2 separate regions of the Homo sapiens genome follow, and region 1 is linked to region 2. A link means that fine-mapping ties the variant in region 2 to the expression of a gene that starts in the linked region. Tissue or cell type: whole blood. Region 2 holds a variant in brackets; the other region holds the start of a gene. All regions are shown on one strand. Distances are from middle to middle.

Region 1 (16,097 bases), 20 kb before region 2:
TACAGCAGATCATTTCCCTTTGAATGTGCATTTACTTTTTGAATAAAATACTCAATAAGTGTTTTTCCCAAAAGATTGTGTGTGAGTTGAACCTGATTTTAAATATCCTGGAGATACTAATTCTTTAAAAATTTCTTTCAAGAGTTCTTTCATATAATACAAAACTGCATTTTGAAACTCTAGTTTCATTTAAACAGGAGCAGAATATTTTCAATTATATTGAAGAAAACATTGTTGTACTTTTTTGTTGGAAATACCCAGTATATGCAGAAGATAATAACATTAAAGACACTATAACTTTGTATTAAGACCTTGCTAAGGTGTTTGAAAAGACAGTAGTACTACAGGTATGAGAAATGAATCATAGTTGTGAGGGAAAAGTATTGATTTTATCATTATGAGTAAGAATAAGTGACTAAATTATTCAATGACAGCAAATTTAGAACTTTTGGTTGAAATTGGTTTATATTTAAAATTTGATCACTTAATTTTGACATTAATTTTTGTGGCACAAGGTTTTGCTGATATCAAATACTCCAAAGCAAATATGTTCTAAATTATTTCATGCAAATAATTCTCACAAAATAATATACCCCAATAAACATACTTATGAAGGACATAACTTATTATCTCTTCAGATGGAACACTACCTATCCTTCTACTCATTTCCAGTTTCCAATCTGAGGGATCCAGTTCATTTACATTCATTCATTCAACAACTATGTATGAATCCTGGACTGTATGACAGACACTGTTGTTAAGGTTGAACAAATTGCAATTAGCAAGACAAACGCAGCGAGAACTATTTATCATAAACAGGTAAACAAACAAATAAGAAAACTCCACATAGTGATAAGTACTATGAGAAAAATAGAATAAGGCAATGTGGCAGTGTCTAGCATTGGGGATAGTGGGGCAATATTAGCTGGAGTAGGCTGGAATCATCTGAGCCCTGTGGACGAATGAGGGGCTAGAGAAGCTGAGTCTGAGAAACAAGCAAGGGCAGGATCATAAAGATTTGGTTTTCTTCCTGAGTGCCATGGGAAGCTACCAAAGAGTCTTAAGAAATAACATGAACCAGTTTGTGTTTTAAAGCAATAATAATAATGGTGGCTCCCGTGAGACGAATGGAAGACAGGCATAGAAGCAGGGCGACCAGTTAGAAAGTATGGCAGGCAAGCGATGATGGTGACTTGTACACAGGTGGTAGAGGTAGAGATAAAGTAATGTGCATAGAATGAAGGTACATTCTGGGAACAGAGCCTAAACATCTCGCTCGTGTATTGGAGGGTTGTGCATATAAAGGTGGTGACACAAAGTAAGCAATCAAAATGAAGAAGGCTGGGGCAAAGAAAGTCCCTTACAAGTCTAACAGTATAATGATACTTTAACCATACACTATGCATTAAATTAATATATAACACCCATGATTATAGATACCAAAGCCTAATCTTCACTTGGAATAACCAGGCAGCTTTGCTATTAGATAGAATTTTACATCTCAACCTAAATGTTAAACTAAAAGATGTTAATTATGTAAAACTTAAGATTAATTTACCCGTTTCTTTAGTGCTTCTGCAAAAGAATTGGAAGTATAGTGGCCAGCACTGCTTAGTGTATGTATTGTATGGTTGTGTGGTAATCCACTTTCCATGCCTCAATCTCAATCACAAGCAGGGTTCTCAGCCATGTCTCCAACAACCCCCAGGACATGAGTTTCCAAAGCACCTCCAGCTGCATTGTGAGTTAACAAATTAGTGAGCAAGCTTTTCTCACCTACTTGACTATAAGTTTCTCCCAAAGGGGACCAATTCATAATTTTGGGGGTCCCAGACAATGACAAACCAGGTAATATCAAGTAATTAATAAGTGCAATTCCTCCCAAGATAGGAATATCCTCTGATATCTCTTTTGGATTTTCTGGACTTGGTCATTTTTTGGCTGATGCCTTTGGAGATTTAATTTTAAAAAATTTTTAACAGCTTTATTAAGATATAATTCACATAACATACAATTCACCTTAATATAATCCATTAGTATATTTACAGAATTGTGCATCCATCACAATATTTTTTATTACCCTAAAAAGAAACTCTGCATCAGCTGTCATCTCCCAGTGCTCCCATTCCACCCCCCATCCCTCAGCAACCATTAATCTTTTTGTTTGTGTAGATTTGCCTATTCTGGACATGTCATATAATTGGAATCATACAATATGTGAGCTTTTGTAACTGGTTCTTTCACTTAGCATGTTTTCAAAGTCATCCATGTTATAGCATGTGTTATTTTATTACTTTTTATTGCAGAATATACCATGGTATGAATATACCACATTTTATTTATCACTTGAGGGACATTTGCATTATTTCCCCTTTTTGGCTATTATGAATAATGTAACATTTGTGTATAAATTTCTGTGTGGACATCTACTTTTCTCTTAGGTGTATACCTAAAAGTGTAATTGCTAGACCATATGGTAACTCCATGTTTAACATTTAATGAATTGCCAGACTATTTTCTAAAGCAACTTCACCATTTACATTCCACCAGCAGTATATGAGTGCTACAACTTCTCTACATTCTCTCCAACACAAAATTATCTATCTTTTTGATCATAGCCATTCTACTGAGTATGAAGTGGTATCTCAGGTTTTTGATTTGCGCTTCCCTAATAGCTAATGACATTGAGCATCTTTTTATGAGTTTATAGGCCATTTGCATATCTGCTTTGGAGAAATAACTATCCAGATCCTCTGCTCATTGCTCATTTTTAAATTGGGTTGTCTTTTTATTAGTGAATCATAATAGTTCTTTTTTTTTCTTGAGATGGGTTCCTGCTTTGTCTCCCAAGCTGGAGTGCAGTGGCGTGATCATGGCTTAGCTCCCTGCAGCCTCGACCACCCCAGCCCAAGTGATTCTCCCACCTCAGCCTCCAAATAGCTGGGGCCATAGGCGTGCACCATCACGCCTGGCTAATGTTTTAATTATTTGTAGAGACAAGGTCTCAACATTGCTCAGGCTGGTTTAGAACTTTTGGGATTAAATGATCCTCCTTACTTGGCCTCCCAAATTGCTGGGATTACAGGCAAGAGCCATGTCACCAAGCCTCATAATCGTTTTTAATATAATCTAGGTACAAGTCGCTAATCAGCTATATGGTTTACAAAAGTTTTCTCCCATTCTGTGGGTTATTTTACAATTTCTTAATGATGTATTTGGAAGCACAAAAGTTTGGTTTTGTTTTTTTGTTTGTTTGTTTGTTTTTGAGACAAAGTCTCGCTCTGTCACCCAGACTGGAGTGCAGTGGCACGATTTCAGCTCACTACAACCTCTGCTTCCTGGGTTCAAGCGATTCTCCTGCCTCAGCCTCCCAGGTAGCTGGGATTACAGGCACCCACCACCACGCCCAGCTAATTTTTGTATTTTTAGTAGAGATGGGGTTTCACCATGTTGGCCAGGCTGGTCTCGAACTCCTGACCTCAAGTGATCCACCCACCTGGGCCTCCAAAGTGCTGGGATTACAGGCATGAGCCACTGTGCCCAGACAAAAGTTTTTAATTTGATGATGTGCAATTTATCTATTTTTTCTTTTGTTGTTTGTGCTTTTGATGCCATATGTAAGAAACTATTATCTAAGTTAATAAATATTTACTATTTTTCTCTGAAGAGTTTTATAGATAATTTAACTTTTACATTTTGGGTGTTTGATCCATTTTGAGTTAGTTTTTGTGTATGATACAAGGCAGGGGTCCAACTTTTTTCTTTGGCATGTGGATATCCAGTTGTCCCAACATCCTTTGTTGAAAAGACTATTCTTTCTCCTATTTAATTTTCTTGGCATGAAAACTTGATTTCCAATCTGTTTAGTTCCAGTAGTGACATCCTCTTAGTTCTTTTATTGTATTTTTTTCCTTTGTAATTTCAACTATCATTTACCCAACTCTGGGTACCTGACAGTCACCTCTGATTTGAATGAAGTTTAAACCTGAGTCTGTAGGCCAATGAAGTTCCATTGATGTCCACACCCTGCTGTGACAGTAGAACAGAGTAGACGTATTTACACATACTTTATTTTCTCTAATGACTTAAAACAGCCATCCTAATTCAAAGAGAAAGCTAAGGACATGTTTTCCCATTTAGTCCTACATGGCACAGTTATTGGGAATGTAATGAACATCTGCCACTCAATGTTCATTATATTAGAACATAATTTACTTAGTAAAGTTGAGGAAAATTTGTGGCAAAATTCAAGGGAAAAATGTCAAAAAAAAACCCACAAACGCTTAAAAGTGGGCATATTGGGATTCCTAGCATCATTCATTTAGAAGGCTCATTAGGAAACAAAAGTATCCTAAGATGACATTGCAGACTCTCCCAAATCTGGCACCTTTAGTCTCCATACATGGATTCCCAGTGAAAAACCTTTACTGTAGTCAAGTCAGTCTCTTTGTTCCTGCCAAATATATATGCTCCTCTATCACTCCACTGACCTTAAACATTCATTAAACAATGACTACCAAGCATTCCCACTAGAAAGAGGTCTCCTTTTTATTTCTATAGAATTAACCCCTACTTTAAGATCTAGCTCAACAATGTTGATCACCCTAGCTCTTAGAAACTTAGCTTTCTCTCAAAGTCCATAGTTGCTGCTTGTCTATTTGGCATGACATATTAGCCATCTTGTTGCTACTGCTGTTTAGCTTTCATTAAGTGCCTCTATAACCTAGTTCTCTGGCTCAGCACCTCACACGTGTTACGTATTCAATGTACATTTTGTGGAGGATAAAACCTGGATCTTAGGGAAGTTGTCCTTAAATAACCCTCTTCCTTCTAAGTCTATCAGCAGTATAGTCATATGACCTGAAAGATTTTAAATGATCTTGCTGACATCTGAATTCTACTACAGATTCCGTGACAAAGTCATGTGGCTGGAACCGGAGTTCCCTGCCAGGGGCTGGCACATTGCACTTCTCACACAATAGAAGGTGAGACGATCTGAGAGCCTTAAAATCAAGCAGATGCAGATTAATGCAATCCTCAACTTCAATCAAGTTCTGAACCAATAAAAATGTGTGATTTCTAGCAGTCAGGAATGAGTGGTTTTTAAGAAATAAGGTAGTTGGGATACGCTTGCCATTATGGATAAAGTGATAATATCAGGGAAAGGACACACGGTAATCTATAGACTATATCATGCAATATTCTTCTCTGTATAAGTGACTTGTTTCCTGTATCAATGACGTTTTCAACTTTGCTGATGAGTTAATGGGACACACATGTAAAAAATGGATTGCTCTATACAAAACAGAGGTAACTTCTGGAGTTCCTTCAGTTATTACTTGTAAATAAGCAGAATTGAACCTCAACCCCATCTGAGGACTAATTAGGAATTACAAAGGTGATTGCTCATAAATGAACTATCGTCATGCTGCTGCGCACTGATTTTTAATAAGAACTGGTTATGGCTTCATATAGAATTACACCTAAAATGTTAATCAGAAAAGCACTGCATTTCCTCCAGTTTCTGTTCGCTAACTTTTAAAGCTGATTATTATTTTTACTATTTTCCTTGCTATGTTAGCCCTTTAATTTTGTTTCAGACTCATGTTCATTAAGCCAGAGCAAGCCTGCTTTATACAAGGAGACCCTGGGCCTTGGAAGAAATAAAAATGCCCAGTGATGACAGTCCAGATAAAGCTGTGTTCATTTTTTACGTTTAGAAGACCATACTTTAAATCATGACTATCACTGAAACAGATAGATTCATTTATTGTTGAGTCCTGCTTTACCCTGAGATGTTCCATGAACACTGAGAATACATTTTCTTTGTTCTAATTCCAGCCTCTGAATCAGAGCCAACTAGAGTGGGCTCTTCATAAATATGCATTGACTGCCTGAGTATTAATGTAGGGCAGGGCTCTGATTAGCAAGTGCTACCTGCAGGAAGCAGAAGAAATACCACAAATGGAGATAGGACGCTATTAGCAGATTTTATTTCATTTTTTCCTGAGGCTTGGAAATAATCACTTCTCTCTCAGGTCAAACCTCTCCAGCTCTCTCCCTTCAGGATGTGAAAAGATCTCAAATAAAAGGCCTCTATGTGAGGATCTCTTTCGCTGGTTGCTGGAGGAAGAGCATGAAATGAGGGAAGAAGCAAATTGCTTCTGATTTATTGTTTCTGGTTTATTCCTTTCCTGCCAGTTCAGCAGCTCGCCAGAAACAGCACAAAACCTTACATCTTAACTTGAAGGTGAAGTATTTGTTTTGACAACTTTTTAGCATAGATCTCGGTATACAAAATAAAAGGTAATGAGGCTATGATAGTCTGAAGGACATCGGCAAATTAAAATTTAACATATTTATGGATTTTATACAAAGACTCCTCTCCCCTTTGCAGATAAAACGACTGCATCCAACTTTATGCAGATTTAACTAAAAGAAAAAAAAAAAGTCTTTTGTGAACCACCTGGGCCAATACTTAGTTGGCTTAATTGCTATTTCAGTGCCTTGTCAGGCTGCAGAGCCTGAACTAGGGAGATGCACCGGGCCCACTTGCAGGCGGGGCCCAGATGCACCCAAGCCCCATGGACAAGAGCACCATGGGCACCAGGGGCCTCCCGACCTGGCAGCCTGTTGCTAGTGGGCGAGGCAGGAGGACAAGTGCGGCTCAGGCCACGAGTCGGGCTGGGCGTGCAGAGAGGTTAGAATTACACCCAGATGGCGAACAGTCAGTCGTTCCTTTCCTGCTCTGGCTGGGAGCTAAACCTTGTAGTCCCAGACCCTTTCGCCTTCGCCTGCCGGCTCAGACCCAACAGCTCTTTCCGGACGACGGGCGGCTCCACTGCGATCAAAAGCCAGGGGTAGCGGGAGGGGATTCGTGAGAATGCAGCAGCCAGAGCAGTCTTTCCTTTCTGAGCAAGATGTGAGAGAGTCCGAGTGGCCTGGAGGAGGAACCGGGTCAACCAACTCCACAGGGCGGAGCGAAAACGCTGGAGGACTAAGGAGGCTAAGAGTTGATCCCCCCTTTGAGTCGTGATACGGTCCGAAGCGGGGCGGGGCGGGGCGAAGGAGGCTCCCCCTGGCTCTCCCCGCCCCTCACCCGCCTTCCTTGCTGAGCGGCCGCGGGAGGGGGAGCGCGAGCCCCGCAGGCCCCTCCCCCGGCGCCGGCGCCCGAGCTCCGCCCCTCGCCGAGCCGCCCCTCCGCGGCTGCAGCAAGAGCTCGCCCAGCTCTGCGGGCGCCGCCACCTTCGCCGCCACCGCTGCCTTTCTCCTCCTCCTGTCGGCGTGCGGGGGCCGCGCCCGGCGGCAGCTCTGCCCTAGGTGGGCGGCGGCGCGGCCCAGGCTGCAGCTGAGCGCTCTGCGCGGCGCAGCCGGGTCTCCCGCGTGTACCACGCCGTGACAGGTGCAGAGTCCGGGCTGAGGACCCACCTGCAGCCGCCGCCGCGATGCCCACCATGCGGAGGACCGTGTCGGAGATCCGCTCGCGCGCCGAAGGTAAGGGGCCGCCGAGGCTCGGGGCTAGCCCGGGGTCGGGAAGCGAGTGTGTGTGTGAGCGTGTGTGTTTATCCTGGAAGAGACCGCATCCTACCTCTTCCCCGGCGGCAGTCCGACTGTCGCGCCCGGCCCCTAGGGGACCCTTCCCCCCGCGCTGCCCCCAGTGTACTCGCAGACCCTTTCCAGGCTCCAGTACCCTCGAATGGGTGTTCTCCGCGGGAGCCCCGAGGCGTGCTTTGCACCGCAGTGTGACCATTAGGTCCCAGTCACTGAGCTCACTCGCCCTGCCCACCTCCCTCCCCACCAGTTCGATTTCCACTCAGCAGATCCCCAGCCCGCCGCCCCTGCCTCCGGCGCCCACCGTTTTGCAACCCCCTATCTGAGCTCCCAGCGAAGCGAGTTTGCTTTTCCCCGGCTGCAGGATCCTTTGATCCGTAGTCCCTTGGCTCTCGAAGCGCGGGGAGCCTTCATCGGGGTCGGGTGCCGAGTGGGTTCCCTGCATTACAGCTTCTGCAATTCTGCCTCCTGCAGCGGAGTCCCACCGGCTCGCGTCTGAGGTTTCGTTTTTGTGTTTCCCTTTTGCCCGAAACCCTCACTTCGGCCAGCTGAGCTGACTTTTCAGCCAGGTGGAAGCTGTTTTCTTTGCTCCACCTGGGGCCAGCTCTTGAATGGCCATGGTTGTCAACACTGAGCAACAGATGCTCCGGGGTAGAAGCAAGTAAGCTTTCCGAGGGCCCAGACTCTTCATCGTCTCCGAGGAGCCCTCAACATCCTGCCTGCCATGTGGCAGGCACTCTGTAAATATTATTTGATTTTGCTCGCGTCAAAGCCAAGACTGTAAATATCCCAAGGTTTGTTTGTCCTCTCCCATAAACCTGTACTTGAATCCTGCAGAGGGTGGAATAACATGTTTTTCAGAAATCTATCTTGCCATCATCGCTGATTCCCACTCTTCCTCCCCACCTCCATCTTTTAATGTGAGACAGGTGGTGAAGTGGTTTTAGAAAAATATATAAGTTAGGAGAATTGGATTTCAGGGATGGAGACAGGCCATTTTTTCTCCTTAGGGGCTCCCTGTAAAAATAGGGTCCCTGAAATTTTCTGATTGCAGTATTTAGGAAATATTAAATGAAACTGCTGTGGGGAGAAGACGAAGCAAGATTCAAAACTGGCCTGTGTACTACATAGGAATTCGGTACATGCTGTCATTTGTAATACCCAAAAAATACTTATATAGGGCATTATAGTTTTACATACACAGTTGAATACATTATACTTTTAAAATGCACACTGTAAAAATTCATTTTTTTTACACTTCTGAGTGAAATTAGTCATAGAGATAGTGAAAGTAGAATGGTAATAGTTGGTGGTGTTCTTTTAAATAATAGCAATTGATGGGTCCTATATTGTGGGAAATAAGGGGAAGAGAAAAAGTCTGAGAGCACTGCAAAACCTGTGGCATGTGAGGGGATTACAGGGCTGCAGTATTGTTCTTGATTGGCTTGTGTATTTTCCAAAGTACTTTTACAAAGATTACTTTATGGAAACTTACAACACTCCTGGAGGTTGGTGAAGGTGGAGTGCCATCTGATAGTTGAGGAAACTGTGGCCCATATGGTTTAGTAATTTGCCCAAGGTCAAGTAACTAGTTCAGTGACACATTTGGATTAAGAGCTCTGGGAAAACAAGGACTGCTGCTTGTTTAATCTTTGTATTCCCTGTGCGTCCAGCACAGTGTCAGGGCCATAGTGGTGCTTGGTGAGTGAATGACCCTTTCCCCTGAGATTAGTTGATTCCAGTTTATTATAGCTTCAGCATGTGCTTGGGACTGTGGTGAAGACAAATAATGACTCTGTGGGGCTGGCGTTGTGGCTCATTGCCTGCTCTGCCCACACTTTTCTTTCCTAGGAAATATTTCTTTCCTAAAAAATATAGTCCTACCTTTCCTAAGGAATATTCTCCTTTGAGAGAGGCCCTGCTGCCTAGAGGGCCTTGTTCTGAACTGCAGCCTTTTTGGCCTCAGCTGATTGGACTATGGTTGGCTCCTGACCCAGGGTCAACCAATTCTTATGTGACTCAGACACTTGTAACCTTGTGGTTTGGCTCAAAAAGAGTCTCTGTGTTAATCATATCTCTCTTGAAAACATTAAAGTTAGAGATTTAGAGTAAAAGCAGAAGGGAGCAGAGGTGAATAGGCTGGTATGGGAGAGAATGGGTGGCCATAATAAGTCATGGGAATGCTGCTGATAGAAGAAAGCAGAAACTATGAGTGAGTAGAGAGATAGCAAAGAAAATGGAATGGATGGGCAGACACAGATCCTGAGAGAGGGTGGCGAGACCTTGGAGCCTGCCCTCCCGAATTTTATAGCCCTAGTTCCCAAGTAGCATTAAAATAAGCTCTTTTCCCCCCCTTGAAATGACTTGAATGGGTTTCTGTTCCCTTCATCCAGATTGGCCAGATGTATGACTGTCATGCCTGTAAGTTGTTTACAACCAAACTGGGGAGAAAGGACTTAAAGAGGGAATAAATAGTCTAAGAGGGGATGTTGTTAATTAAATATTGTGCATGCTGTGGGGGACGCAGGACCTGTGGAAGATTAGGAATTTAGTACATACTTATTACTGAACATAAGGCCTGCTGAGTGAACATTTCATTGAGGTGTGATTTGAGATGAGCCCTCACACAGTGCTTCTCAAACTCGAAGGTTCATAGGAATCACCTGAGGATCTTGTTAAACGCAGAGTCTGATTCAGGAGGTCTGGAGTGGGGCCAGAGTTACTACATTTCTGACAAGAATGTAATGCTGAAGGATGCTGGCCTGCAGATCACAGTCTGAGCAGCAGGATCCTAAAGGATACTGACATCTATTTCTGTAGTTAGGAGAGTGTTGAAGACAGTCATAACAAGAACAAATGGGGAAAGTGAACATGGCTTATTTCAGAGTTCTTAAGGAAATTGGCCGGGAGCAGAGGGAAACTTGGAAGGAGCAGGCTAAAAGTTTGGATAGGTAGATTACTGCCAGATTACAAAGCATTTTAAATGCCAAGGTGAGTCATTTGGACACAGGACCGAATATTTGAACAGGTTCTTAGAGTTCATTGAATCTAATTTCTTATTTAAGCCTAACTCCAATATATAATATCTAACAGGGCCAGTTGGGGGCCACATCGTTATAAGGGAGGGACATCCTAAAAGTAGTAACTTAGTTAAGTCTGGAAGTGTGTTGGCTGGTTTGGAGGAAAAGGTATGGTAGATAGACTCTTTTGCAAAACAGTCTTAAAATGACAAAAGTCAGAATTAGTATTAGAGTGGAACAGTGAGAATGGGAAGGGAGGAATCAGATTTCTGACTGAATCATTAACTCATTCAGCAGATGTCTACTGAACTTCAACTACTGTTACAGGCACTTGGGATACATCAGTTAACAGAAGAGGAAAAGCATGGCCCTGGAGGTGCTTACTTTCTAGTGAGGCAGGAGACAAAACACACACAAAATATGCTAATTATAGAATTTGTTGTGTGGCAAATGGGGAAAATGAAGAGAAAGCAAAATGTTTAAGGTGGGTGGATGGATTGCAATTTTAAGTAGGTTAGTTAGACTAGCCCTCATTGAAAAGTTGGCATGAAGGAGATAAGGGAGTTGGCCTGGTGGGGATCTGGGGGAAGGGTGTTCCAGCCAGAGCAAATGCCCCAAGGCAGGAGAGAATCGGGAATTAGGAACGGTGAGGGGAAGAATAGTAGGAAATGAGGTCACAAAGGTCATTGTGTTAGTCCGCTCTTAGGCTGCTAATAAAAACATACCCAAGACTGGGTAATTTATAAAGACAAAGAGGTTTAATGGACTCAGTTTCACATCGGGAATTAGGAACGGTGAGGGGAAGAATAGTAGGAAATGAGGTCACAAAGGTCATTGTGTTAGTCCGCTCTTAGGCTGCTAATAAAAACATACCCAAGACTGGGTAATTTATAAAGAAAAAGAGGTTTAATGGACTCAGTTTCACATGGCTGGGGAGGCCTCACAGTCATGGCGGAAAGTGAAGGAGGAGCAAAGGCAAAAGAGCGTGTGCAGGGGAACTGCTCTTTATAAAACTATCAGATCTCGTGAGACTTATTCACTGTCATGAGAACAGCACGGGAAAGACCTGCCCCCATGATTCAGTTACCTCCCACCAGGTCTCTTCCACAACACTTGGGGATTATGGGAGCAACAATTTAAGATGAGATTTGGGTGGGGACACAGCCAAATCATAGCAATCATATTATAGGACTTTGCTATTTAGTGAATATTTAGTAAACATAGGGCAGGAGAGAGAAGGACTTTTTTGAAAAAAGCAAGTCTCAACAATAATTTAGAATTCTAATATTAATAAGTTACCATGGATCTTATTGGTAATAGCATATTGATATTTTATTAGTAATAACATTGGTAGTAGGTTCATAAATTATCAGGGATCTTATTGGGCTGGCTTGTGAAGATTTAGTTGAGTAAATCTGTGGTGGGCTTGGGGATTCGCATTCTTAATGAGCCTCCCAAGATACCCTGGTGCTGGTGAAACACATTTTGAGGAAATTTCCATTACAGTCTTGAGCTTGACTGGTTGAGAAAATCTATTAAACAACAAGGAAATTGGGAAGGAGGACTAATAAAATAAGAGATGATACTAATTCAAATTTTGAGGTAACGGGGACATCCAAATGGACATGTTTTAAAGGTAGTTGGAAATTTTTAGGTGAGATGTGGGAAACCTCAAACTTGGGAATCTTGAGAGACAATAGTTGAAACCCTGATAGTGGAAAAATTTGCCATAAGGCAAGAGTAGATAAAGCAGAAGACTAAGAATTTTAGGTCTCTTTATTTAGCTGCCCCAGATAAATCAAATGGGTGTTTGAACTTAGCATTTGAAATCTGGAAACAGACTGAAATAATGGTAGCTTACACAAAATAGTTTTTCTCACTCCTGTAAAACTAGTGTGGAGGTAGACAGGGTTGGCTGTGCCTGCTACACAAAGTCATAAGGGATGTTGGCTCCTTGTGCCTTTCTGCTTCACTGTCCTGAGAGTTTGTCTTCCATAAAGTCACAGCATGGTTGCTGGGGTGCCAGCCATCATGTACAATAGTTTTAGCCAGGAGAAAATGGAAGGGTGAAAGGCAAACAGGTTTTTCAGAAAGCACCACACAAAAACTAATGCTTATTTTGCATTGGTTTCCACTTGCAGGGCAAGCTGGGAAATGGAAATTTCCAGCTGGACACATTACCCAGTGTTGTGTTACAAACGGAAAAGGGTGTATGGTTATTGAGCAGTGCATTAGTCCATTTTCACACTGCTGATAAAGACATACCCGAGACTACTCAGCTTGGAATTCATTGTATCATTATCAGCATTTTGGGTCAAAGCCATTCAACAAGTCTCTAGGGAGTTCCATACTTTCCCACATTTTCCTGCTTTCTGGGCCCTCCAAACTTTTTTCAACCTCTGCCTGTTACCCAGTTCCAAAGTCATTTCCACATTTTCAGTATCTTTTCAGCAGCACCCCACTCTTCTGGTACCAATGTACTGTATTAGTCTGTTTTCATGCTCCTGATGAAGACGTACCGAGACTGGGCAATTTACAAAAGAAAGAGGTTTAATGGACTTACATGGCTGGGGAGGTCTCACAATCATGGCAGAAGGCAAGGAGGAGCAAGTCAGATCTTACATGGATGGCAGCAGGCAGAGAGAGCTTGTGCAGGGGAACTTCCATTTATAAAACTATCAGATCTTGTGAGACTTATTCACTATCACAAGAACAGCATGGGAAAGACCTGTCCCCATGATTCAGTTTCCTCCTACTGGGTTCCTCTACGACATGTGAGAATTGTGGGATTTACAATTCAAGATGAGATTTGGGTGGGGACACAGCCAAACTATATCAGGCAGACAACAGAATCAGTCACAGTGAAGTTCTCAGATTGCCAAAGGCTCTTGCTTGGATAACATAGAAACTGCTCTGGAGCTCATACTTTACATATAATAAGGATTAAATTGTTCAGAACTAAAGAAATGCACACACACAAAAACTTCACATACCTATCCAGTGGTTTGTGTTTTCTTCTGTTGAATACTATAATGCTAAAATATAATGACATTTATTTGATTATGTAAAATATGTGCTAAACGATGTATCCAGAAGTTGTTTTAGGAATTGTTTTTCTAAATGGCAACTCTAAAATGTTTGTAACTATGTAGAATAGTATGTTTTATTTACATAAAAGGTAACAAAAGGAATAAAAAGTAATTTAAGCTGTCCTTAAAGGAAAAATTTTAGGACGCTATTCCAGGTAAAAGATGACTAAGGTTTTTGTTCCTTTAAAAACCACTTATTATGCACCAGCTGTGTGCCAGCTAAATGGGTGGTGGGACAAAAGGCTGTGGTCGATGAAGGAGGTCCCAAAGGAAACATGGAGATGAGTATGGAGATGAGTTCAGTTTTACCTGAAGTGGCACTGTGTGAGAAGGTGTGTATGAGTATAGCGATACAGCATGTCATCAATATTTGAAAATCTCAAAGTAGGTGTCATTTTACTTAGTGTAATTCTGGAGATATAAGTGTATTAGATCTGATTATTTTAGGTTTTCTATCTTCAGTGCAGAATTCATGGTTTGTTTTTTCTGTCATTTCAAAAACAGAATTGAAGCATATACCTAATGTTACAGCTGTGGGAATGTTTGCAAAGGTCAGAGGACACTTTTGAAGTTAACGAAATGTTTGCTGCGTGGGTCTCTATTCACATGGTTTCATTGGAATGTCAATGACATGAAGGCCACCACTTTCCCCTTCATTCTTTACTTCTTAGCGAAAGGAGCCCAAACCTTCCAATGATTGTATTCTCCGGGTAGTAAGCTCCCTAAGGGCAGGGGGTTTTGTCTGGTTTGTCCACTGATATATTGCTCCCCATGAGGACATTGCCTGGCACATAGTAGGCATTGGTTAAATGAATGAATCTATGTCCTAAAGATGAAAATGCCTTATAATCCAATTTGTAAAATACTCAGAGCTAAATCTAGATGTACTAAATCTAGTACCCTCCTACTGAAACCTTAGCACCCCAAAGGAGCGTTTTTGTGAGATTTGTTCGCTGCTGTACCCTCTACACCTAGAGTTTTGTCTGCCACATAGCCACCACTCTATATTTGTTGAATGAATGGATAACTCTGAGCTTTGTTTTTAATGGAAGAGCTTAACTATGAGTCTTGATAGAAGTACTGCCTGCTTACTGGGAAAAACTCATGCTTCAGAAAGTCTTGCAGGAGAGAGTAAAATTCATCACAAACTATGCCATCCAAATATAATCACATTGTGATTATAAACTTTTATATACTTCATATAAATTTATATATTTACAATGTTAGAATTTTAGTATATGTCCTTCCCAACTATTTTCCAGAAAAGATATATTTGTTAGGAAGAATGAGGTAATCTGCATTATTTTTAATAATTTTATGGATATCTGTGCCAATATAGATTTGTGTAAATTTTGTCTACTGTCACTAGTTATATCCTTAGTGCCTGGAATAGTGCTTGACACTTGGTAGCAGCTCAGTAAATTTTTGTTGAATGAACAGATCAATTTTATTAATTTTATGACAGCTTAGCATTTTTATGTTAGTACAGAATAACTTACTAAAGAACCCTGTGGGTGGACATTTAGGTCATTTCAGTTTTTTAAACTCTTGAATAAGCATCTTTGTATCTTTTTGTACACCTTTCTGATGGTTTTGTTCAAAGTCCCTAGAAATGGGATTTCTGGGTCAAAAGTATATATCTTTTTATGACTTTTGATACATATTTGAAAATTGCTAGAAAGATTATACTGGTTTACACTCCCACTGAAAGTGAATGAGAGTGCCTGTTTATCCCTTTTGCAGCACTGTATAGCATTTTTCTTCCTCCTTATGGATATAGAATGTAAAAAGTAAGTCTTTAAGTTTACATTGCTTTATTAGGTTTAACATATTTTGGTAAATGTAGTGATTATTTTTTTCTGAATTGTTTATCAAGTTTTGTATTGAAGTTTAAGAACTTATATGTTAACGATAATACCTTTTTTCCTTATTCATAGTTTATCTTAACTTTGTAGTGCTTTAACATGTATGTAAATTAATTTTTATGAAGTATAATCTTTCCTTTTTTTAAATTTCTGCTTTAATGTCATATTTTTCAAGATAATTTTTCAATTATATTTTTCTTTTAGTACTTTTGGGTTTCATTTTAAACAGTTATATTAGTAATTCCTGTGTGATTTACTTTGTGGTGAAATGTGAGGCCTGGATCTAAGTTTTTCCTCAAATTATTTACCTGACATAATAACCATATATTTAATAATCCTTTCTTCCCACACTGATTTGAGGTGCTTCCGTATGTATATATTTGAGTTTTTTTCTGGAGTCAGTCTCTCTTTCCCTTCCCCCCACCCCACCCGCCGCCACCTCTCTTTATTTTGGTCCCTTTTAGCCCCTGGTATCAAATTCCTTTATTGCAACATAACAAAAAATATTCTCTTAGCTGTCCCATTTGCTTTGCTCTTTTCTCTAGGTTTTTCTGGGTTTTCTTTCCCCCACA
Region 2 (16,097 bases):
AGCATGTCACTTAACCTCTGTGAGACTCCTGTTTCTCTTTGATAAAGTGATAATACCTACCAGCGAATCATCTGCCTGTTGGATAGTGAGGAGACCAAGCCTGGCTACACACTGGAATCTCCCAAGGAGTTTTCAACACACTGACCCCTGGTCCCACCCCCAGGGATTCTGATTTCATCTTGGGGGTAAGGGTTGAAACAAGGAGAAATGATAGTGGCTTCAACTACTAAGCATCAGTGGACATGATGGGGAGTGGTCAAGATTCAGAATATAACTAGAAGATAGATCCAACAGATTTGTTGATGGCTAGGTTATGGAATTTTAAAAAAAGGAGTCAAAAATGACTAAAGTTTTGGGCCCTGAGCCCAAAACAGTGGTGCCATTTACCGAAATAGAAAACACTGGGATGAAGGAATGAAAACCAGCTTGCATCTTAGAAAGGAGTGAGAAAGTCCCATGTGTCAAAAATACATATGTTTGTAGACATTTATTTTATTCTCTTAGAGTATTGCATTCATCCTAAAATCTGGATTTCAGAATTTCCATCTTCTGTTTCCCTCATCTTCTTTTCTCTGAATATTCTTTAGAATTTCAGTAAATGCACCTGTTAGTGTAATACGTGTTCCCCATTGCTATGAATTTTAGGTATCTGGGAACTGTATGGATTTATTCTGTTTGGGATCGATAATTACATTGCCAGGACTTTTTGCTGCCCAGTCAGAGTTGATGAGAACAGTCTTTCACGTGATCACTGCGTTCTTTTGGCTCTTGAGGTGCTCCAAACTGCAGGGACATTTTCCAGAGTGGATATATTAAATGAAAGCACTTACTATAAAGTAGGTGCTAAGCAAATGTTTTTTGAATCTGCATCTGGTGAGTGACTGGGATAAGATCAGGCTGTTCAGATTTTGGAAACTGAACTTTTAAAAACGCTGGAGTGGTTTTGAAGTCTTCGTGGAGTTTTCTTATATTCATCTGTATGCCCATCACACCTTGCATGGCAGTGGTCACGGTATACCAGCAGGTCTAGGGAGCTAATTTCATGATTCTAATTAGTAGTAGTAGCATCTTGAGGTAAAATGTTGCATTAGGAGGTACTTACTGCATGGAGTGATTTTTATTTATGGCATTAGAAGGTTCTTGAAGCATTTGTTTCATCCACCCTCGCATCGTTTTTGTTCTACCTGTGGATTGAGTAGGGCGTGCGGCAATCTCACACATGTGTAGGTGTCATTGCTTTAATGTCACTGAGCAATGTGCTGGGTCTTTTCAGTCTTTGCAGCCCACCAGCTGTCATTCACACATCCTATCTTAATCTGTTTAGTGGAGGTTTCTGTCGTCTTCTTTAGCTACATCCTGACAAACTGAAGGATGCCGACCATTCCTTACTTTGTTTTGTGAAAATGATTCTTGGCTTTTTGAGCCAGTCTCATCTGACCAGTCTTAGTGGGTTCTTCAGTACTGCCCACAGTGCTTGTGGTAGATGAGCCATCCCAGAGCCACACCCATTCTCAGAGTCTCGTTAGGGTGTGCTGGAGTTCTTGGATGCTCTTTTGTGGGTTTCCTCTTTTTCTAGCTTTGTTTAATGGATTTGTTGGATATTTGGCAAACCTGGTTGTGGCATTGTGTTATCAACAGGCAGATGAGAGTGTCACACTTTCCTTATCCTGGGTAATGTCTGTTTCTGTAGGATAAAACACTTGTCTTGTTTGTGGACAGTGTATGTTGCTGTGTGTGCTATACTGATGTCCCTACCAAAGTTGTAATGGGCAGGAAGACTTTAGTTTCTTCACTGGATGTTTTTGATGATTGAGACTTTGTTTAAAAAAAAAAACAAAGGTGAGTTGTTTTCCTCTCTTGCAAAGTCACAATGGAGATAAGAAGCAGGTGCCAGTTAAACTCCACTGACTCATTCTGAGATTAATGTAGCAGCATAATGATGTTATTTGGGTGTTTCTGCTTCTTGTAATAAAACGAGGACTAGTCTGTTGGAACTAATCATATATCTACCTGTTTGTATGTTATAAAATGTGTAAATAGCTCTAAAAGTTAAAGTTGTAATGATTCAGATAACTTTCATCATTGTTCATTCATTTTTTTCCCCAGTACTTTTTAAGGCCTAGCTCATTCAGAGCTGTAATTCAGTTCTATCTTCCTATGAACACACTGCTACTGAAGTCAATGGGGTTAACTATCCTACAAGCATTTGTAGTAACTAATTTAATAATACTCTTTTCCATGTACAAAATGCGGAAAACTTGCGCCCTGCACTGTATCAGTGGTTCTCTCAATAAGCTTATAGTTGTCTTAAAAAAAAAAAAGAAATTTAAAAGGATAGAATCCTTGGATTCTAGAGTTGGAAGGGAACTTAGAAGTCATTTAATGCAACACAGTAACTGATATGGCTTGAATACCTCACAGTGAAGGGAACACACCCACACACACCCTTTTAAGACAGCCCATTCCATTCTCAGACACCTCAGATTTTTTCTTGATAAGAAAGCAATAAAAGCAGTAAAAACATTTATGCTCTACATGCCTTGCTGGGTCAGGTGTCTCCCATATTGTATTTACACAGTTGCTTCTTTAGGCCTTTAGTATAGAACCTTCAACTTATTCAGCCTTTCAAAATCTTCTAGAATTCTGATTTTTTTCATGTCATCTGTACATTGATTAATCGTGTCATGTGTCCTTATCCTGTCATTGGAACCCAGGCAGTCTGCACCCAGAGCCCTTACCAAGTTAGGCATTTACTGTAAGGGATCCTCTTGTATCACAGCAGAGGTTCATTGTTCTTTTTTTTTTTTTTTTTTCTGGTGAGGGGGAAGTCTCTGTACGTCTGCTCCTTCACTTCCTAACTTTGGCATGCATGTGGCTTCAGAGTGCCATGATGCTCCCTCCAGCCCACCTGTCCGTGATGTTCCTTACTTGGTGCTGAGTTGACTGACCACAAATCCACATTCTCTAAAAGGGATCTGACTGGCCTGGCTGGTCAGGTGCTCCATGTTGACCCTGACACCTAGGGCTCAGGTACTAGGCCAGGCCAGGAGATGGAAGGAGAGACCGAGTCCAAGGGTGACCCAGGGGAGGCTCTTTCAGAAGGGCTCACAGGCAGGGATGGCCAAAGAATAGCTTTAGTATGTGAGACCCCTCCATGTATGTTTGTCAGCTACATAGTTGTGAATCCACATTGTTTCATAATCATGGAATCGTGTGTCTTCATTTATAACAATAGGGCCTACACAAAAGCCTTCTTGAAATCCAGATGCTGAGGGTTCTATTTTTGAAAAGAAAGAAAAGGGATTTAGTCAGTGGAGGCTTACTGATCCCCACCAGTCACCACCTCCCTTTTAAGCAGTCTGTTAATCAGCTGCACTTAATGTTTGACTAGCATTGGCCTCAAACTCATTGGCCAATAGCATTATTATTCAGACTTATCTAATGTAAAGGACCTTTTTTAGAGGAAACATTTCTTTTTGGTCTTTGAGAATATATTCTTTGTATGAGAAACACTGCTTTCAAAATAATTAAGCTCAGTTCCATGTTTAACTGAATTCTCAGAAATGTTCTTTTAACTTCTGAATTTTCAGATCTTTCCCAAAAATCCTTTAGAAGCAGTGGATCTCATTTTGTAAATCTGTGAACTTTGAAAGCACATCTGTAGACTCCCATTTTAAAAAACAGTGGTTTATGATCTTTATGATCCATCTTCTTTTTAGAACACTGGGAGAGTGCAGGTGGCCCTCCTTATCCCTGAGTTTCACGTCCATGGATTCAGCCAATCATGGATCAAAAGTATTCAGAAAAAATTCCATAGAGTTTCAAAAAGCAAAACTTCAATTTGCCACACACCAAGTACTATGTTGAATCCATGCAAATGACGTGTAGGCATTGTGTTAGGTATTATAAGTAATCGAGAGATGATTTAAAATATACAAGAGGATGTGTGTAGGTTATTTGAAATACTACATCACTTTATATAAGGTAATTGAGCATCTGCAGATTTGGTAAGGGGTCTTGGAACCAATCCCCCATGCATACTGAACGATGACTAAATTGTCTTCATCTTTTAGTTCCTCTCTCATTCACCATAGTTCTTCTCTGATTAGTAACAGTTCACTTAACTATTTTGCAGGTTCTCACAGTTCTGTAGGTTAGAAAATAATTATATATACCTACACATACATATATGTATTTACTATAGGCTAGGAATTCATTTAGAGCAGTTAGGTGCTGATTTTTCTTTTTTTCCCTCTTAAAATAATCCCCTACCTTGTCTTTTGGTTTAGTTCTTCGAACTAATGTTCATTCTAACCTTTCCAGTCTTAAGATGATTATCCTTGATAGACGATTGAAGCAAAGTAGATGTTGGAGCTGAGAAGTTCTGCCTTTTATTATCTGTTAACAACATTGTATCATCTATTCTAGGCAGCAGGCTCATCTCATCAATTCTTTGTGTCCCAGATGAAAGGGGGAAAAATCGAGTGGTCTCTAACGTTTTTTACAACACCTTTCCTCCAGTCTCAGATGTCTGTGCATCTGTTAATATTCACTGTTGAACATGTGAACCTATCTATTTTCAACCTTTCCTGTGATCTTTTTTTAATCTTGTGCTTGTTCAAGTACTTCCTGTGAAGCAGCAGTGGTCTCTAAATACAACTCCTTCAACCCTCCCTGACCACCTCCCCGCCTTGTCAGGGCCTTCCACAATTACTCAGCATGTGGGTTTGGACAGCTGTTGGGGCTTCTGCACTTTGTGGGTCTTGATAATAAATTGAAATGTGCCCTCCTGAAATCCAGAATACATATCTGACATGGCCTGGTATTCCCCTTTGACAGTCAAAAACTCTTTGATACAGTTATTTTTTGAAGAGTATCATTACTACTTTACCACTTTTGCTTGGATTAGAATCCAGTCCGTAGTGTCAGTCTGCCTTGTTTCCTGTGCATTTTTAGAGGTGAACTTAATGCCACTGCAAGTCAGTGGTGCTTTAAGCTAATTGAGACTTCTAGGAGATGCTTGGTAGATGTCTGGTGGTTGCAACCCCTCGTTTCTGGTGCAGTCTGCTTCTGTGTCAATTTTTAAACATCTATGTTGGCAAATATACTATTTAATTCTTCTGTCAGATAAAGTTATCTGTGGGTTATTCCCAAGGAGATGTCATTAAATTCCTTCTGTCTTTCATTGTTCTGGTTCCTTTTCCAGTTAAGCATGAAATGGCGTTAGTAAATGTTTTATTATTTCCAAGCAATTCAGCATGCCGAAGATGACTATTATTTTAGGTTAATATCCAAGGCTGGCTGCCAACAAGATTGACTGTTTACTATGTGTGACGCCCAACTCTAGGCATACTATAGATTTCCTTGTAATACTGCTTAAGGATATCCTTTCTTCTGAATGTCAGGAGTACTCTTTAGAATCCACCACTTAGAATTTGTAGTGCTACTTCAGGGGCTTGTCGCAATTTAGCGTGAGTTCAAGAAATGTTAAGCCATTACTTTTTTTCCTTTTTTAGACAATAACTGCTGTGGTGTGTTTTACACTTGTTTATTTTTAAATCAATTCCCTCAAAGGCACTTAAAGAAACATGTCATTTACCATGTCTCCTAATGACAGGTCCTGATGACAAAATATATTAGTGGTTATTAGGATAGAGACAAGACTATAAATTTCTGGGAATTTTTGGATGCCTTATATTGAAATAGAAAATTTAGCAAACATTTAGTGCACAGAAGGGACTTTCCTGAAGGGTCATTCATGTTACTTCCCCATATTAGAGTAGCATACTTAATAGATACTTACCCATACCCTTGTGCCTGTCCCATCCTCTGTACATAAGCATGCATAGCATTTATTATTATTGAACTAAGCATATAGCTCAAAAGATTAGTGTCAGATGTATGATGGTCTTTTACATAGACAATATATTCAAAACTTTTGTAGGTATCCCTTCAAAGAAGAATGGCCAAGGAGAGTATTTTGACACTTAAGTAGCATCCAACAAGGCTGAAGGGGTAGAGAAATGTCTGAACTGGAAATACTGTTGAGGTGTAATAGACCAGCAAAGGACAGAGTTAAAGGGAGAGGTGAGGTCAAATTTAATTGTTGAATGAATGCATGAATCTATCTATCAGTGTCAGAGCTTTAGATATGGGTTGGACTTTATCAGTTTCCAAATGTTGTCTTGCCTTTGGTGCTCAGTGACTCTCTAACCTTGAGCAAGTCTCCATATGACAAGTGATGTCTCCTAATCTTCATTTTTAGAACTCTTTTAAAAAGTGAACCCTTTTGTATAATGAAAAGCTATCAATTGTTGAAGGAGATAACCATGTTTTACATGATCAAGGGTATGTAATGTTTGTTATAACTCAGATGGACTTGGAGGTAATGAGCTAGCATCACAGTTGCATGAACAAGAGGGTGATGGAGAAGAAGGTAGGGATGTGGAAAACCGTTTGGCTATTGTGCAAGTTCCTTAGAGTTGCAATCCACAGTTGTCCCAGAACGTGCTGGACTCAGAGCTTGTTTAGGGCAGCTGTTAACATCAGAAGAGATCTGATCCAGCAAGTAGGGCCTGTTGGGGAAGGTTCCAGGTAGCCTGCTTATTCTTAAGCAGGAAAATTGCACTGTGGTTCCAGGTCATCATTCCATGTTGATCAGAAAAGCCAGCTAGCGGTTGAGGTACAGGGAACAGGGCTTAGCTTCTTGTAGAAGGCTAGCCAGTCTGGGTAGGGCATCACTGCCCACCTACATTAGATGGGTGTTGGGACAGGACTTGGCTTCCAACAGAGGACTGAAATGATTCTGTCAAGACTCCATAATATATAGGCTGAGCATATCCTTTAAGCGGGTGGAGTAGCTCCTGGAATCACATGAAACGCTTAGAGAAAGGTTGAGGAGGATCTAAGGCAGCTTGACTAATACCACAGATTCATTCCTGTCTGTGTTCAGCCTTTTCATCTCTCCAGATGGCAAATTGACTGACTGGCTTAGCCTGGACTGTGTGCTGACTTTTAAGTCAATGAGGAGCATGGAGCCTTGATGGAGCAGTCCCCTAAGACTCTGGGGGAGGGGTTCTCCAAAGGAAAGCAATGGGCTGTTTCCAGGAGAAGCAGATGCCGAGCTGGAAAGAGCAGATTGTCCACTGCACAGAGTCTGCATTAACACTCGGTACAGGGATGGTGTATTAATGCAACTGAAAATTCCATTTTTCCTCTGGCTACTGTTGTCATGATCTAGAAATTTGAGAGGTATTGCTAAATAGTTTCCATTTTAATTTCCATGCTTTTAAGGGTGTTTGATTTCTTCAGTGCCATATTTGAAAATGTGGTTTGTAAGTCTTTACCTTTGAAGCACCCAGTTTATTGTTTCCAGAGTAGTGGTTCCTTCTTTTCATGAGCTCTCTCTCTCTCTCTCCCCCTACCCGTCTCTGAACAGCTGCTGTCAGGCTCACAATCGAACATTTGAAGTGACTGTTCTGCTCTAACAATGCAGAACATGGGATTTCAAGCCTCTTTTGTCACTGCAGTAATTGCTTCTGCATTTATAATTAAATGAACTATCTGTACTAAGATACCACTAAAAACAAAGTAAATACAAACATCTTAATTATTCAGCCAAGAATTGTTTTGATCCAGCTTAAGAAGCTTATGTGTGTGTGTGTGCGTGTGTGTGTGTGTGTGTGTGTGTGTGTGTGTGTGTGTATTAAGCCCATTGCTTTCCTTTGGAGAACTCCCCCTTCCCCCATAGTCTTAGGGGACTGCTCCATCAAGTTACCATGCCCCTCTTTGACTTAAAAGTAAGCACATGGCCCATGCTAAGCCAATCACAGTCAATTTGCCATCTGGAGAGATGAAAAGGCTGAACACAGAGAGGACTGAATCTGTGGTATCTTGAACTGATTCCATTAGTCAAGCTGCCTTAGATCTTCCTCAACCTTTCTGTAAGCTTTTCATGTGCTTCCAGGAGCTGCTGCACCTGCTTAAGAAGCTTACATACATACATACATGTGTATATATATATATATATATATATATATATGTGTGTGTGTGTGTGTGTGTGTGTGTGTATATATATGTATATATGTGTGTATGTATATATTCTTAAGCTTCTGTATCAAAACAATATA[T/C]ACAAATACATATGTGTGCATATATATATTCAGGACTTTCAATTATTAAGCCTTTGAAAAGGATAGTGGTTAATGCTAATAATTCCATCTTAGTAGTACCTAACTTTAATCACACCTAAGTTCTGCAGTTGTGCTTGTAAAGTCTCTGTCTAGTTTCCCTGTTAATATTCTTTTATTAGATTCTTTGACTGTTGCAAGCATGACTGCTTGTTTAATGACCCCAACCTAAGTCAAGAAACTTGAGCAGCTAATATGGTCCCTTTAATGCCTAATATTGGAAACCATTGAGTGAAAGGTTATATAATTGCACTCTCCTAAATATGTTTAGGAAATAATATAATAGATATTCTGATTCCAATTACAGCCTTACTTATAATTGCAATAAAGTTGAGTCTGCAAAAAACTTAGTGGTTCTATAACCGTATTACCAGGCAACAGTGATTTTGTATCTTGTTCTTGTCTCCCTCCTACCTACCACCCCTGCATTTCTGTTGCATAACCCCATACAGATGACAATTTTGTTAAAAAAAAAAGTACTCAATATTAATTGACCAAATTATATGGCAAAATTTATTATTTTGCTGTCTATATTGATTTACACTGGTCACAACTATAAATATTATCCAAAATAAGTAAATGTTAATACCTACATTACAGTCTTTAAGACTTTTAGTTTTCCCGTATCAAGTATTTTGAAGGCGAGATTAATCTGTGGGGAGGATAGGGTGACGGGAACTGTTTGAATGACAAGTATTGTGCTACATTGCTAACATAATGTCATCCTCACATTAACCATATTTTATGGATGAGGAAGCTGAGACTCAGATGATAAAATAATTTGCCCATGTAGAAGTGTTATAATCTGAATTTGAACATACATCTGACTACATAGCCTATTTATTTTCTCCCATAGTATGCCTTTCTGATTTCATAATAAAAATAATAGCTAGAATTTTTGCATATGCATGAGGAGCCAGGCACTTTACACATGCATTATTTCATGTAATCCCCACAAACTCTTGTAAGAGCGTAGGTAGCTAAAGGTTAATTATCTTGTCTAAAGTAACCAGAGCTCATAACTGGTAGACCTAAACAGTCTCTCTCATTCTTAGGCATGATTCTTTAATGCCCTCCTTGATTATATTCTGTATTTTAAACATTATTGATTACCATGTAATAATGAGAAAAAGGATGCATGGTATCTAAGGATTAGGGTTGTTTGGCTGTAAAGAGAATTCTATTCATTAAGTGGTTAATTATTTGTTGTATTTACAATCCTACAATAAAGTAATGGGCAAAATTAATTTGAACAATACATGTAACCCAACACATCCAAAATATTGTAAATTTAGCATGTGATCAAAATAAAACATTATGGGTCAGATTTTTAAAAATCCTACATTTCTTTCATGTCTTGGGCTTTTGCGTGGAGTAGCACCAGGCAGTAGTACTATGGAGCATCATGCAATCATGAAGAGGTTATATGGCTCATGCCAGCTCTGCCTCCAGAGTATAATGTATGCATCCACTTCCTTTCATCTCTGTCACCAGTCTAACCCAGGACTCATCATCTTTTACCTGGATTATCACAGTGTCCTCGAAATGGTCTTTCTACTTAAACCTGTCAGTGAATTCCTACTGCATAAAGAATATAAATTCAGGCTGTTATTCTCCCAATCTGGCCCTGCTTCTTTTTGTTTTATGCTCTGTTTACTGTTAGTGGCCCTCATGTTCCTGGAAATGCCAAGCTCATTCTCCCCTCCAGGGCTTTTCCTGCTATTCCCCCTTTTGGGTTGACAACTGTCCCTTATCTTCCTTTATGTGTCATCAAGGTCTCAACTCAGCATCTCCTTGAGACGTCTTCTCTGACCATTCAGTGTAAAATAGCAGCAGCTATAGTAGCATCACTAGCAGTGATAACAACAACAATGAAAATAGCTCACATTCATTACTAAACTCTTACTACGTGCCAGGCATTGTTCTCATATTTACTCGCTGGGTCCTTACAACCACCCTTTGAGGTAAGATACTGTTATTAGTTCTATTATATGCATAATGAAACTTAAGCACAGAGACTTCTGTCAATTGTTCTACAATCACTTGTTTATTTTCTTCCTCATTCTTACCATGTTCTGTAATTATCTTTTTCTTCTCTAGAAAATAAGTCCCTGAGAAAGAGGACCTTATCTTATTTCCTGCTATTTCTATAACATTTTTAAAATGCCCAAAACATAGTAGATTCTTAAGTATGTTGAATGAATGAATAAGCAAATGAATGAACAACAGGTCTTATTAGATCATGATATTTCGGATGAAAAATGGAATATTTCAGAAATGATACTTCTCTCATATGAGCAGGTCAGAAGCCTTTCACTTATACTATTGAGCATTTTCCTCTGTTACATTGTACTGTGTGCATATAAGCATGTGATGATGAATCTGGGCAGATGAAGAAAGGAAGACTCTGTGTCGTCATTCTCAGCAACCCAGTAGTCACTGATCAGTAGGTGCCAGGTAGTTGTTGGCAACTGATTATAGTCACTGCTTAGCTTTTCAAATATGGATGTTGAGTTACCATCACAAAGCACCATTTCACTTCGTGACTGAGTTTTGGCTGCAGATTAAGGAAGGCAACTGTTGCTGTGAAACATCTCAATAAAGGCTCAAGAAGGGAAATTTTTTTTACTTTGTTTTTCAGAATTTTCCTGCTCTTCTGAACAAAACTATTGATTTCTTTTCTGCCTGCTGCTCAGCAGATATTAATTTCACAGAATTTTAGAGCTGAGAGTAACTGTCAGATTATTAGCCTAGCCTGGCTTCCCCATTTTACAAAGGAAGAGAATAACCCCCAGGGATGAAGTGGTTTGTGCAGGGTCATGTGGGTAATTGGTAGAAGAACTTGAGCTCACCTCACAGCCCCTAAGTGGGTTAAGTGATGAAACACTGTTCGGGGAAGATGAGCACTTGCTCACTTCAGAGTCATAATTAGGATAGTGACCCACCAGCATCCTTTGTTTTCTTGACAAATAAAATTATTGCTGGAAGCTAAAATAGTCACCAGAAGGATGTTGCTTGTATATTTTTATTTGGTAATACAAAGTAATCTTATTAACATATTCAGTAGTTAAAAGTTACATGTGACTATTCCCTATACTGAAATTCTTGGTCCTTCTGAAGTTTAGAAATAGCATTTGGCCATTTTACGACCAAGAATGCAAAATTTGGCCTCTTAGAGTCTCTGGTTTAAAATATGCATAGCAAATACTGGATAATTTTATTATTGCTTGAGATAAACCACAATTCAGAAAACAAAATTGCTTTTCTGCTGGCAGGGGGAATAGGAATCAAGCAGAATATTACAGACATTATTTGGCATAAATAAGGAAAAGTCTTTTCCTTGCTCATTTCAATAAAAGCTAGACCAGATTCATTTTTCTGGGAACTGGTTTGATTCTGACCGTTTTTAAGAAGTTACAGACCTTGGAGAACACAATGTTGAAAGAAGCTAAGATTTCCCAGAAGCTGCTATACAAATGTGCTTTCATACATAGAAAAGGATCCTTGCTCAGTTCCATTCCTCAAAGTGATAGGTGTATGAATTTGCCTGCCAATTTGCTCTGTGAAACTTAATTTAAGAAGACTAATAATGCCATTAGTGGATGTCAAATGTCTGAGCACCAAGGACATTGGGGTGAATGCCTGAGTTAGTCTCTTGGAGAATCGAAAATGTGAGGAAGGCGCATATATCTGGTGTTACTATCATCATTTACTTTGTGTGTCTGTACTTGTGGGCCATTTTGAGATGTCTCCAACAACTTGGAAATTTGCGAATTGAGTATACCTTCTCGTTTCTTTCTAAGACTAACATATACAGGAGCAAAGTCACCTGCAAGGGGGCTAGATTGGTTCCTAGGCCTACAGGATTTGGTAATCCCATTGGAAGATTAAATATCAATTTGTGTTCGAAGGTGGAAATGGGTATGGAGATGGTCAAGGAAGGGGTAAGTCATGGGGTTAAACATTATCAGCACTCTTCTCAGCTCTGCAGAAGGGAATAGAAGCATTAGCCAACAGACTTGAAGTATCATGGCCTCATTGTCAAGATATTGCAACAAACTTTTAAGAGGTTGGTCCTACAGATGCATCTACCCCTTTAGCAGGATTGGTTGCATCAGGCTGTACTTCCCTAATGCTATGAGAGTCTCAGTTCACCTAACCACTGGTGGGTGGGTTACTTTGGTCATTTAACTTCTACACAGGCCAATCTGGGAGAGTTGAATTGATTATGGAACTTCAGTTACTCTAGTTCCTGTGGCAATTACTTCTCATCATAAATTTACTAATTGTTGTTTGGACATCAGTCCTACAGGCTTGGGCAACATATGTCTACTTGAAAGAGATCTGTTTCTAGTATATTACTAATCTGGTTTTGCTCACTTGTTAATTCATCAGGCTTTGAGGGCTTACTATGAACCAGAGGTATAATAGGTAACTTACCATGTAACAAGGGAAGCAGGTGAATTGTCAGTTACACCACAAGGTAGAGAATTACCACCCCAAAACATTCTTCAACCTCTAACCCAGAAGCCGCCTCCCATTTTTATGAGGCTCAGCCTATGACTGTATCATTATTCACCCTGTTAGCTCTTTAAGTATAATAGACATTTACAATATCTATTACATTTATTGTAATACAAATTACATGTATTGTAATCTATTACAATATTAGGTGTTTTAAGTACATTGCATACATATTCCTTCATTTACTACCAACTATTCCAGGACATGAACACAGAATACTTCTCTTTGACAGATTAGGAAACTGAAGCCTAGTGAAAGTAAGTAACTATCTAAGGTCATGTTTTATTCTTGGCTTTGCCATTTACCAAATACTGTTCATTCGACTATACTTAATACGGAGTTCAAACCCATTGCATGGTGGGCTTCAGAGTTCAGTCTGAACCCAGAGAAAATGGGTGGGGCACTGAGTGGATCTCAGAAGCAGTCTGTTGAATGTCTTGAAGTCCATTTCCGTTAAATAGGTGAGTATTGTATGTCCTCTTTGCACAAGATTGTGCTAGGAAAAGCTGAGAGAGATACCAAAGAGCATGATTAAGATGCGTTTCTTTCTCTCAGTAAAGTTCACCTTTAGCATGACTTTACAGACAAAGAAGGCTTCTGAAGGCCTGACCTACCAGGAAGACTCAGAACTGTTACCAGATCAAGAACGGCACTCGCCTTCCCCTTGCTTTCTGTGAGGGGATGACATAAAAGCGTCAGAGTTTTCAGTAGTCCTTAGGAGTTCAGACAGGTGGATTAAAAGCTACTAGTAAATTTTAATGACTTATGTGAACGAACCCTCTAAATTATTAAACAGCAAGGGACATGGGTTCCTTCCTTAAAACGAGGAATAGAACTCCATGTATAAGAAGGAATACCATCTTAGTTTGACCCTCTTTGGGGCAGGGTGGTAAAGGATTCTCCTATTTTGATTGCCTTTGTCACCATTCTAATAGCTCAGCTTAGGCATTGCCCAGGTATGCACATGTAGCTCTTTATGTGGTTATTATAGCTGATGAAGGTGGTGATATGCAGAGGAAATAAAAAAATGAAATCATAAAATAGAATTATCTGGTGCATATTGAATAACTTTCAATTTTGAATGTAGCAAATGTGTTTTCACCTTTAACCCAGAGCTGTGAGATCAAAATTGCTACCTACCTTCCTCAAAGTGTTGGTTCATTAATCAAATGGAAGAGTCCGTTTCTCTTTACATGGAAAGAGTCTGGATTGACAGGTTACTTACGTTAAGTCCAGACCTAAGTTGCCCATTTCTGCAATGTAAGATGATTGCATTGAAGAGTTTAATTATAATGGTTACAAACTCTCACTTCCAAATTAGCAAAAATGCTAGTCTTTTTCCCAGGTACCTTCATCAGAATATTCCTGAGGATCTCTGAGGTCAAGTATGTTCACTGAGATATTTCTGAGAACCTCTGAGGTTGCTGTGCCTGTTTACTGCTAGCTTGCTGTCACCTGCTAGGAGTAAACAGAATTGGATACATAACAGAAGGTGATACCTGCAATCTCTGGCCTTCAAACATTCTGGGAGTGGGCTTCAGGTGCCTGATGGCTCTCCATGTCACTGCTGAGGAGACAGGGGAGAGGTGCCTACCAGCTCCACTGGCTGAGAGCCTCACTCCCTGCTTTCAGTGCAGATCTCCCTTCCTCAGTATCACACCTGGTCAGGGCACAACAGAGCGAAGCGTTCTGCATACATTCAGCTTCATGTACAATATCTTTCCAAAGCTTTTCTGTAATGCCTGGGTAAAGAAAGCCTATGTTGTCTGTGAAATCCTGTGCTCAGAGCCATCCAGTCTCTTCGATGGTCCTACCCCTGGCAACAGTTTACAGTTTAGATTTTCCCCTTCATTTTGGTGAGTTTTCTCTTTAAAGATCCCTTATTATCTGACCTAGGTTGGGCCCCTACTAATCCATTAGGATTGTTTTAATTACTCTGATTCCCACATAAGGGATGGGGTTAATTCCAGTCCCTTTAGTTCAAGGAAAATCCTTTGCCCCACAGAAATTCTTGAATACAAGTTAATATCTGAGGGGGAGATGCAGTATCCAATTGCTTTCAGTGGATAGCAATATCCAGTGCTCTCCCAGCAGCGTTTGAGACCTCAATGTAAGTAGGTGTGTCTGGATGGAGTAACACCCAGTTCCTCAGCTAAGGACATCCAAGGGCGGGGCCCTCAAAAGTCCCATTACATAAAGTAGATACAACACTCAAAAGTCCATTATATAAAGTAAATACAACACAACCTGAGAACATCAGCTCAGAGTGGAGTGAAGAGCTGGTTTTTTTGAGGCTCTCTCTCTAATCCAGAGGCGGGGAACAGCACACTCTGGTCTTCATGCTACCACGAAGGAAGACCTAATAAAGGACTCAATTTTTTTTAAAGATTGATCTCCCTCTATTCAATAACCCATGTGTGAAATTTCAATTATACAAAACTAGAGGGAAAAGTATGTGTTTAGAACATGGTGTAGGGAAACACTGTGAGCAAAGCTGCTGATTGGGTCTGAAACTGCAAAATGGGTGTGACAGAATCTACTCGGAGCCATGTGACCTCCAGGGTGATAAGGATACAATGTGCCTCTCACCCTGTGCCCCTCCTACTTGGAAAGCTTTCAGTGGTTGGCTGCCAAGCAGAGCGCAGGGTCCTCTGGGACCTGGCCTGCGTGCTTCCTCAGCGTGGTTTCTCGTCCGCCTTCTGTCTGTGCTCCAGCAGCACTGCCCTGTTTGCTCTCCCCTGCACACATGACACCGTTTCTCACACCCCAGTCCCTGTGCTCATGCTTCTCACCTTTGTAGAACACCTCAGTGATTTTCTGGTTTCATACTATAACAAACCCCACAGGCCAGCTTTTCACATAGTTGTTACCAGCACTTGGCCAACAGTTGTTTTTTCATCAGTGGGTGGAGCAGCTTTTCTTGCCCCCAAAAAACAGTCAACCACTCATTTTTCATTGGGTATATGTATTCGGCAAACATTGGGTACCTGCTGTTTGTTGGCACTGGTGTTGAGAAGATGAATAACACACCCTCTATGGCCCTAGGGAGTTCCCATTCTGGTAGGGGGAACCTGACTCAGGCAGCAACAAAACCTTCTGGTAAGTGTTTTGCTGAAGAGTGGGGAGGTTCAGAGGGCTGTGGAAACCCAAAGACGTTTTACCTAACTTGAACATCATAGAACACTTCAGAAGAAACCACATGTCAGCAGGTCTTATGGGAGGAGTTGGCATTGGCTAGGCAGAAAAGAGAAGAAAAATGGGTTTTGGAGATACAGTACTGTTGTCACCCCTTTGATTTTTCACTAGAAGACACAAAAAGCTGTTTAAAATACTATCTGTTGATATTCTGTTCTAGAACTTGTATGTATTTTTTAAAGTGTTTGTCAA

Evidence for each region.
Region 1: it holds the start of ATP8A1, and the variant in region 2 is fine-mapped to the expression of ATP8A1 in whole blood (INTERVAL, PIP above 0.99).

The regions. Positions count from the first base shown.
Region 1 is chr4:42,648,222-42,664,318 of GRCh38, reverse strand. ATP8A1 (ATPase phospholipid transporting 8A1) reads left to right here and starts at 7,214. Exons shown (of 37, transcript NM_006095.2): 1 at 7,214-7,494. The coding sequence starts at 7,446. It overlaps ATP8A1-DT (ATP8A1 divergent transcript), which reads right to left and starts at 6,796. Exons shown (of 1, transcript NR_186688.1): 1 at 5,972-6,796. RefSeq lists enhancers at 6,778-6,987, 7,978-8,027 and a silencer at 7,018-7,487.
Region 2 is chr4:42,627,727-42,643,823 of GRCh38, reverse strand. All of the region lies in intron 1 of ATP8A1 (ATPase phospholipid transporting 8A1), which reads left to right. Among named protein-coding and RNA genes, the nearest start is that of ATP8A1, 21 kb to the left of the region's middle. RefSeq lists enhancers at 1,798-1,847, 4,514-4,633, 4,864-4,913, 7,489-7,538. The variant T/C (reference allele first, on the strand shown) is at 8,130.